Linked DNA regions of Homo sapiens. The protein of the gene in region 2 interacts with the protein of the main gene of each other region in a pairwise test. Each region holds a gene or a part of one and is shown on either strand. Other genes may lie near its edges.

Region 1 (3,654 bases), on a different chromosome or scaffold from region 2:
GCACTTAAATGATTGTTTAATTATAGGCAATTTGGGGTATTAATGAAAGCCCTTGGGCCCAGTTAGTGGTTAATTATTCTTGTTTTCTATTATGAGATTTGTAATGAAAACTATTACTCTGTTTATTAATATTATTAGTTGCCTTGTGTTGCTGCTAATAAATATTTGGGTGCAAGTGATGACACAACAAATCTCTTCCTTCCCTCAGGCCAAAGGAGGCATCCGTCCTCTTTTAGTTATTTCTCCTGGGGTCTGTCAAAGGAGCAATTAGAGGTGAGAGCCTATGCAACTTTGCTGTATTCCACAACTCCATCTCTGCCTCAAAGGAGCACCGAGCCTGAGGCTTGCATAAGGATGAAGACATGGCATTGTGTGCAGTCTCCCCTTGGGCAATTTATCTGCCCATGCCCCTTGTGGTGACAGGTGGGCATTGCAGGGTGTGGCCTTACCCGTCGTGGAAGGGGTAGCCCCATGTACTATTGGCCATGAGGCATTTAGGACCCTTGTTGATTGAAATGGCTGAGATGATAAACGAGTATCCAGCTCCCAAGAATCCAACCACAGCAAATATCGTGGAGGTGAACATCTGAAAGAGAGGAAGAGAGACAGTCACATTCTCCAGGTGGTCCAGAGGATACACTCAACAAACCTAATCCACCTGCTGTTGAACATGGTGACTACAAGAAGTTATGGAGTAGGAGCTAGTCTTTATAGTAGATGGGGCCTGTGGGGTCTTCTAGAATGAATTTTGGTGTCTTCTTTTCCCTTCTTCACTCCCATTTCCATTTCTTTTTCACCTTTTCATTGATGACAGAGGTGTTGGTTCTGTTACCTTTGAGCCATGGCCTTTTAACCTTGTTAAAGATAAACTCTCCTCCCCAGGGCTGATATATAAAGCCAATCTATTATAGAATCAAAGAACCTTAGGATTGGCGTAATCTTTTTTTTTGAGACGGAGTTTCACCCTTGTCGCTCAGTCTGGAGTGCAATGGTGTGATCTCAGCTCACTGCAACCTTCACTTCCCAGGTTCAGGGGATTCTCCTGCCTCAGCCTCCTGAGTAGCTGGGGTTACAGGCGTGCGCCACCATGCCTGGCTACTTTTTTGTATTTTTAGTAGAGACAGGGTTTCACCATGTTGGCTAGGCTGGTCTTGAACTATTGACCTCAGTTGATTCGCCTGCCTTGGCCTCCCAAAGTGCTGGGATTACAGATGTGAGTCACCGCACCTGGCCTGGCAGTAATCTTAAGTTTTCTGGTCAAATTATCCTGCTAAGGCCAGTCACTGTGATGTCTCATGTGACAGGCAGGTTCTACTTATGAGAAAGAGTAAAAGTTTAGAACCCCTCCTCATTGGCCCTCATTATGTTCCTCGAGGCCAAAAAGATCAAGTCTAACCTGTCTTCCATTTGGCATCAGTCTTTAAAATATCTGAAGATTGCCTTGACATCTCTCACCCCTTCCACCCTCGGAGCATTTTCTCTTCTTTAAGTTAAACAATCAAAAAATTCCATTCTTTTAAATATTTTTCTATGATGGAGATTAATGAAAAACAGATTAGACTACCATATTTTGTTTTCAATTATAAAATCAAAATAGAATTATTGACTGCAAAAGGCAGAAGCAATCCTGGAACCCAGCTAGGTTAACTCCCTCTTACGGATGAAAAAATGTAGGCCCAGGATGTTAAGAACTTTTGCAATATCCATTCTAGACAGTAACTAGAAAGTAGAATGAAAACATTTAAAATTTTGGAAGAAGAGGCAGAAAACGATCACCTCTGTTGCTTTGATGACGAAGCACAGGGTTTAAAGTCAGCAGACCCAGACCCAGGCTCATATCTCAGCTTTGCTAGTCTTCTCTGTGTAATGACTTTGCATAATGAATGTGTCCTCAGAGCCTTAGTTTTATCATCTTAAAATGGGCATGATAGAGCCCACCTTAAATATCTGTTGTGAAAATTAGACGTGGCAGCTTAAGCTAAATGTCGGCTATTTTCCCTTTCCCCTTTCATGTTATTAACAATATTATCATAGTACATATCTGGGATGGGGTAAGGTTTGAAGGTGAAGAGGACCTGATCGTGCCTGGGTGATTGGAATCTATGTAATAATGGAGTTCTACTTTAGCTGGGATTCATTTTCATATCATATATCAATGTATTTTGGATGCAACTTTTAAAAAAAGTCTTTTTAATAGAAAATTTAACTCTTTTGCCAACTCATCTGATTGATGCAACGTTTTAATACCAAGCTCTATTCATGTGCTTTGTCTGACTCTCCTTGTAGAACTGACCCTTCATTCTTCATCTCTTCCAACCCCTGTACTCTAGATTGCACAAATTTCTATCACAGCACAATGCCTCTAATACAATAATGCATAGGTTTTTTTGTTTTTGTTTTTGTTTTTGTTTTTAGACAGGGTCTTGCCCTGTCACCCAGGCTGAGTGCAGTGGTGCAATCGTGGTTCACTGCAGCCTCAACTTCCTGGGCTCAAGTGATCCTCCCACCTCAGTCTCCTAAGGAGCTAGGACTACAGGCATGCACCACCATGCCCAACTAATGCTTAGCTTTTTATGGCTGTCTTCTCCAAATAGAGCACAAGTTCCTTGAAGTCACAGACAATAAGTTATTTGAAGATAGGGCATTTTTCCACACTTAGCATAGTTTTACAGTTTTCCTTCTTCCTAGCTTATCAAAGGCACTGGATAATGACTTGTTGCATGTTTTCAATGACTAAGGTTTCATATTACTAATTGTTTAGATTTTTCCCCTTATTGTTTATGTTTAGGGTATCTAAATCCACTCTCAGCATCCAGAACATTCATGACTTTAACCTAGGTCAGAAGTAAGTGAACATTTTGGTAAATTTCTCGTGTTAGAACAGGCAATCTCTTTTCCAAAGGATGTAAGGTTGAATAAGTTTGAGAATTGCTGGATTACATAACTAAGTTTCATTCCTGCTGCACTTCTAAAAATATAGTACTTATGAAACATGAATTTGTGTAAACTTCTGAGAAGGAAATCTACTACATATGCTGGAATATAAGGAAAATCATTCACTCTCACATTATTCCTCAGAAATGAAGGAATTACCTTAGAGTTGAGTCCTTATTTCATCTATCAGGTAATAATGTATTTCCTCAAACACTTTATTTTGAACAACCAAGTACTGCCTAGAGAAGACATCAGTCAGAAACAACTCAATCATTGTTAGATGACAGAATTGTGTTAAAAATTTTTTCTTAACACATATTTATTAATTATTATAAAAAGGTTGAACCCATAGTTCCTAGTTCTGGATATTATAGTTAACAAGGTATTCTAGGCCTTGTTATAGTTTAAAGGGTATTCTAGGCCTAGCGTGGTGGCTCACGACTGTAATCCCAGCACTTTGCGGGGCCGAGGCTGGTGGATCACGAGGTCAGGAGTTCCAGACCAGCCTGGCCAATATGGTGAAACCCCATCTCTATTAAAAATATATAAAAATTAGCCAGGCACAGTGGTGCATGCCTATTTTCCCAGTTACTCGGGAGGCCAAGGCAGAAGAATTGCTTGAACCCGGGAGGCGGAGGTGGCAGTGAGCTGAGATCACGCTACTGCACTCCAGCCTGGGCAACAGAACGAGACTCCGCCTCCAAAAAAAAAAAAAAAAAA
Region 2 (3,754 bases):
CAGTGCGGGCAGCTTCTATGGCTCCTTTCCGGACTCTCCAGATCTGTCTGCCTGTCTCTCTCCAGGGCTCTGATTTCCTCTCATCTGTTTCTCCTGCTGGCGCGTGCGTGCGTGCGCTTTCTCTGCTTGTCTCTCACACTGTCTCTGGCTCCGGGGAGTTTTGGTCGCTAGCGCTAGCGCATGCGCGTGCGCTCTCTGTTTCTGTCTGTTTACGACCGTCAGTTTCTGTCTCTTCTCCAGTGTCTCTCGCTAGCGCACTTTTTTTCTTTATCTCTCGGGTTGTGTGTCTGTATGTGTCTCACCGTTTCCTGATTCTTTCTCATCCTTGTCTCTCACTTATGTCTGTCTCTGTTTCTCCGTCTCTCGATAGCACGTGCACGCTGTCTCTTTCCTGTTACTCTCATTTATCTCTTCCACTCTGTTTGTCACTCAGTCTCTCTGTGTGTGTCTCTTTCGCTAGCGCACTTTCTCTGCAGGGCTTGCGCTCTCGCTCCCTATCTTTCTCACAGTCTTGCCCGTCTCTCCCTCAGTCTCTTTCTGATCCATTCTGTCTCTCTGTGTCTCTGCCTGTCACTGTGTCGCTCGCTAGTTCATGTGTGTCTCCGTCTTTCCCTAGTGCTCTCTTGTCTCTCCATTTCTCTCTCAGTCTATTTCCCCAGCAGTTCATCTTTGTGGGTCCCTAGCGCACCTGTTCAATGTCGTTCGCTGTGTCTCTGCCCGTCTCCGTGTCTCTCCAACTCTCTTGTTTCTGCGTCTCCCTCGGGTTCTCTGGGTGTCTCCTTCTGTCTCTCACTGGCACGTGTGCGCTTGCTCTGTCTTTCTCGGACCCTCTTGTCTCTGTGTCTCTCCGTGTGGTTTCTGTCTCTCCCTGCCTAAGTTCTCTCTGCATTACTCTGCCTCTCTCTCCATTGATCTCTAACACTCTACTGCTTGTCTCACCTGTCTCTCAAGCTATCTCTTTAGTGTGTGCACTCTCTCGTTGGTTTCTCTGTCCTTCACTTTCCTGTCACCCCAGGACTCTGGCTAAACACTTGCTTTGTATCTTTGAGTGTGTGCGCATCTCTATTTCTCTACATCTTTTTCCCATGGCCCCTCACCTTGGTTTTTCTCTGGCTGGATCTCTGTCTCTTTGGATCTCTGTCTCCCTGTGGACTTTATTTTGCCGTGGAAACCACCTGCCGCCCCGGCCACCGCGGGCTTTGGTTAAAAAACCCTTAGTTTATCAGCAGTGCAATGGAGACTGGAAAATGCAGAGAGGATGCCTATTGAGCTCCCCTACCCTCACCCTCCACAGCCCCATCCCCATTCCCAATTTGGCATCCTCTTTGCTTTCTCCGGATCTGCTTGGTGTCGGTGACAGCCGAGGGGAGTGGGAAAGGAGCTGGGGAGAAAGGCAAAAGAGGCAGGGGTGCAGGGTGGTGGAGAGAGTCAGAAAGGCAGGGCGAGAGAGACTGAGAGGCAGAGAGACAAAAAGGAAATGAGAGACAGCGAAAGAATGAGATACATACAGAGAGACAGAGAGAATGTGAGCAACAGAGAGGGAGAAAGAAAGAAAAAAGAAGAAATGGGAGCGTGAGAGTGAGAGAGAATGAGAGAGCAAGACAGACTGGGAGAGACGCAGACAGAAAAAGCAAAAAATAATAAGAAAAGAGAACAAGCAGAGGAAGAGGGAAAGGATGAGGAAAAAACGAGAGAATGGAGAGGAAGGGGGAAAAGAACGCACGAGAAAAAGTGAGAGAGAAAACGCGAGGGCGGGAGGATGGCTAGGGAAAGGCGAGAAGGGGCCGCACCGCGGGCCACCGCGCCTGGTAGCTCAGCAGCCGTCGGGACGCTTCAGAGGGGGCGTCGTGGGCTCCCAGGCTCGGGGCCCTGCCGGGTGCTGGGGGCCACGGAGCCCGGAGTAGGGCCGGGCTGCTTACCTGTTGCTGCTGCAGACGTGGCGTCGCGGGCGCCGCGTGCAGGTCCTTCGGGGCTCCTCGCGCTCGTCCCGGCCGCCTCTCGGGGCTCGGGCGGCTGCGAGCTGGCACGGGGCAGCGGGCGCTGCGGGCGCGGCAGGAGCGGGGCACAGCGTCTGTGCCCGCACGTCCGGCCAGCGCGCCGCGCTGCAAGCTCTGAGAGGCAGCGGGGGCGCGCGGCGTCTTAAGGCAGCGCGGTGCCCTCACCTTGCGGTGCCGCCCTCCCCTCGGCCCCCGCCTGCGCCCGTGACGCACGAGGCCGCCGCAGCCCAGGGAGCGGGGCTGGCAGGTGGGGGGCCGTGCACCAGACCCCACTCAGATTTTCTCACTCCGGGTTCCCACCCCTGGGGCCCCGAGTCCACCGAGAGCTCACAGACTGGGGATTGTCACCGGGGCTGATTTTCGTGCAAACCCCGTGCCTTCCTAGCCCCCTGATTTCGGGCCAGCTCCCAGGCACAGACCCTGCACTATCCTTCCGATTCTTCCAAATAGGAGGGCCCGGGACTCCCCTCGACTTCTGAAAACCCTCCAAAGTATGAATAGCCCCTGAGCCCGAGAAAGGAATCGTGACTTTAATGTCAACGATTTTCCACGAATTTCTCTAGCTCCCAGGAAGAGCTAAGCGGCAGTGCTTTCCCTGTGGGATTTGGAAGCATTTCATTTAAGACAAGCCACATAATTACCCACTATATTCTTTGATTGAAGTATGTCTGTCTGTAAGTCAGTCAGCATCTCTCCCTCTCTCCCTCTTTCTCCCCCTCTCTCTGCCAGGTACTGTGTTAAACTGTTTACACAGAGAATACCGCTGAATCTTTACCCCAGCCTTGTGAGATAAGTACCGCTATTATCTTCATTTTATAGAGACAGAAGCAGAAGCCAAGAAAGATTACCCTACTTGCCTAAGTTCAAGTAAATATTGCACACGTTCTATTAGCCAAGACATTCTGGTCTCTCCTAAACACATACTGGGTATTTGTTGTATATCAGGACTGAGGAGGCCCCCTCTTCCCTGCCCCCAGAAGGTAGGGAAGGTGACCCAGACCAGGGATCATTTGCATTAGATTTCCAAGGGATTAGGAGGTGTTTTCTAGGCAGGGCACAAGGGGAAATGTGTTCTGTAAAAAGAAGATGCATGGGGTAAAACTAGGGCTGCAAGAGAGACTTGAGTTCCAAAGGCTGGGAAAACAGGCTGCAGCATGGTGAGTGCCAGGAGGTTAGCTGGTTAAACTGGGTAGAGACAAATCCTGAGGGGTCTTGAATGCCAGTCTGCAGACTTCGGACTTTACCCTGAGATCCCTGGAGGTCGTCGGAGAGTCGTTTTATTATGAAAGACTTCAAGCATACACAAACGTAATGAGAATAATAAAATAATCCTCCATGTTCCTATTACCCAGCCTTCACAAGGGTAAATAATTTGCCATTCTTGTTCATTGGTGGGTTTTAGGTAGGGCGATATTCTAAAATCAGGGCTGGTGTTGGATGGAGAAAGCTGAAGGGAGGCTGTGGCAGGAGACAAAGAGGGTCTTGACAGGTCCAACAGAGCGGGGCAAGCAGAGACCTACAGAGAGGCAAATTGACAGGGAATAAGGGCAAGGAGGTGTTGGGGAGGGTCTAGAATGAGCACAGGGTTTGGAGTTGGTTGATGGGCTGGATGGAGATACCTCCTCCCCTTCTCGTCACCTGCCTCTGAGACAGGGAGATGAGACAGGTGTATAATCGGGCCTCAAGAATGCTCTTTGGATCTGGAGTCCTGCATTTGCTCTTAGATCATTTGTCCTTTTTCTGCTATGCCTGATTTT

What was found. The genes of interacting proteins can lie anywhere in the genome.
Region 1: the proteins of GPR101 (region 2) and TM4SF4 interact in binary tests that used the Homo sapiens proteins (3 or more experiments, as listed by UniProt).

The regions. Positions count from the first base shown.
Region 1 is NC_000003.12:149,484,551-149,488,204, reverse strand, and holds part of TM4SF4 (transmembrane 4 L6 family member 4), read right to left. Parts: intron 587-3,654; coding exon 450-586; intron 1-449. UniProt on the Homo sapiens protein: Regulates the adhesive and proliferative status of intestinal epithelial cells. Can mediate density-dependent cell proliferation.
Region 2 is NC_000023.11:137,031,883-137,035,636, forward strand, and holds the start of GPR101 (probable G-protein coupled receptor 101), read right to left. Parts: upstream 2,114-3,754; 5' UTR 1,920-2,113; intron 1-1,919. UniProt on the Homo sapiens protein: Orphan receptor.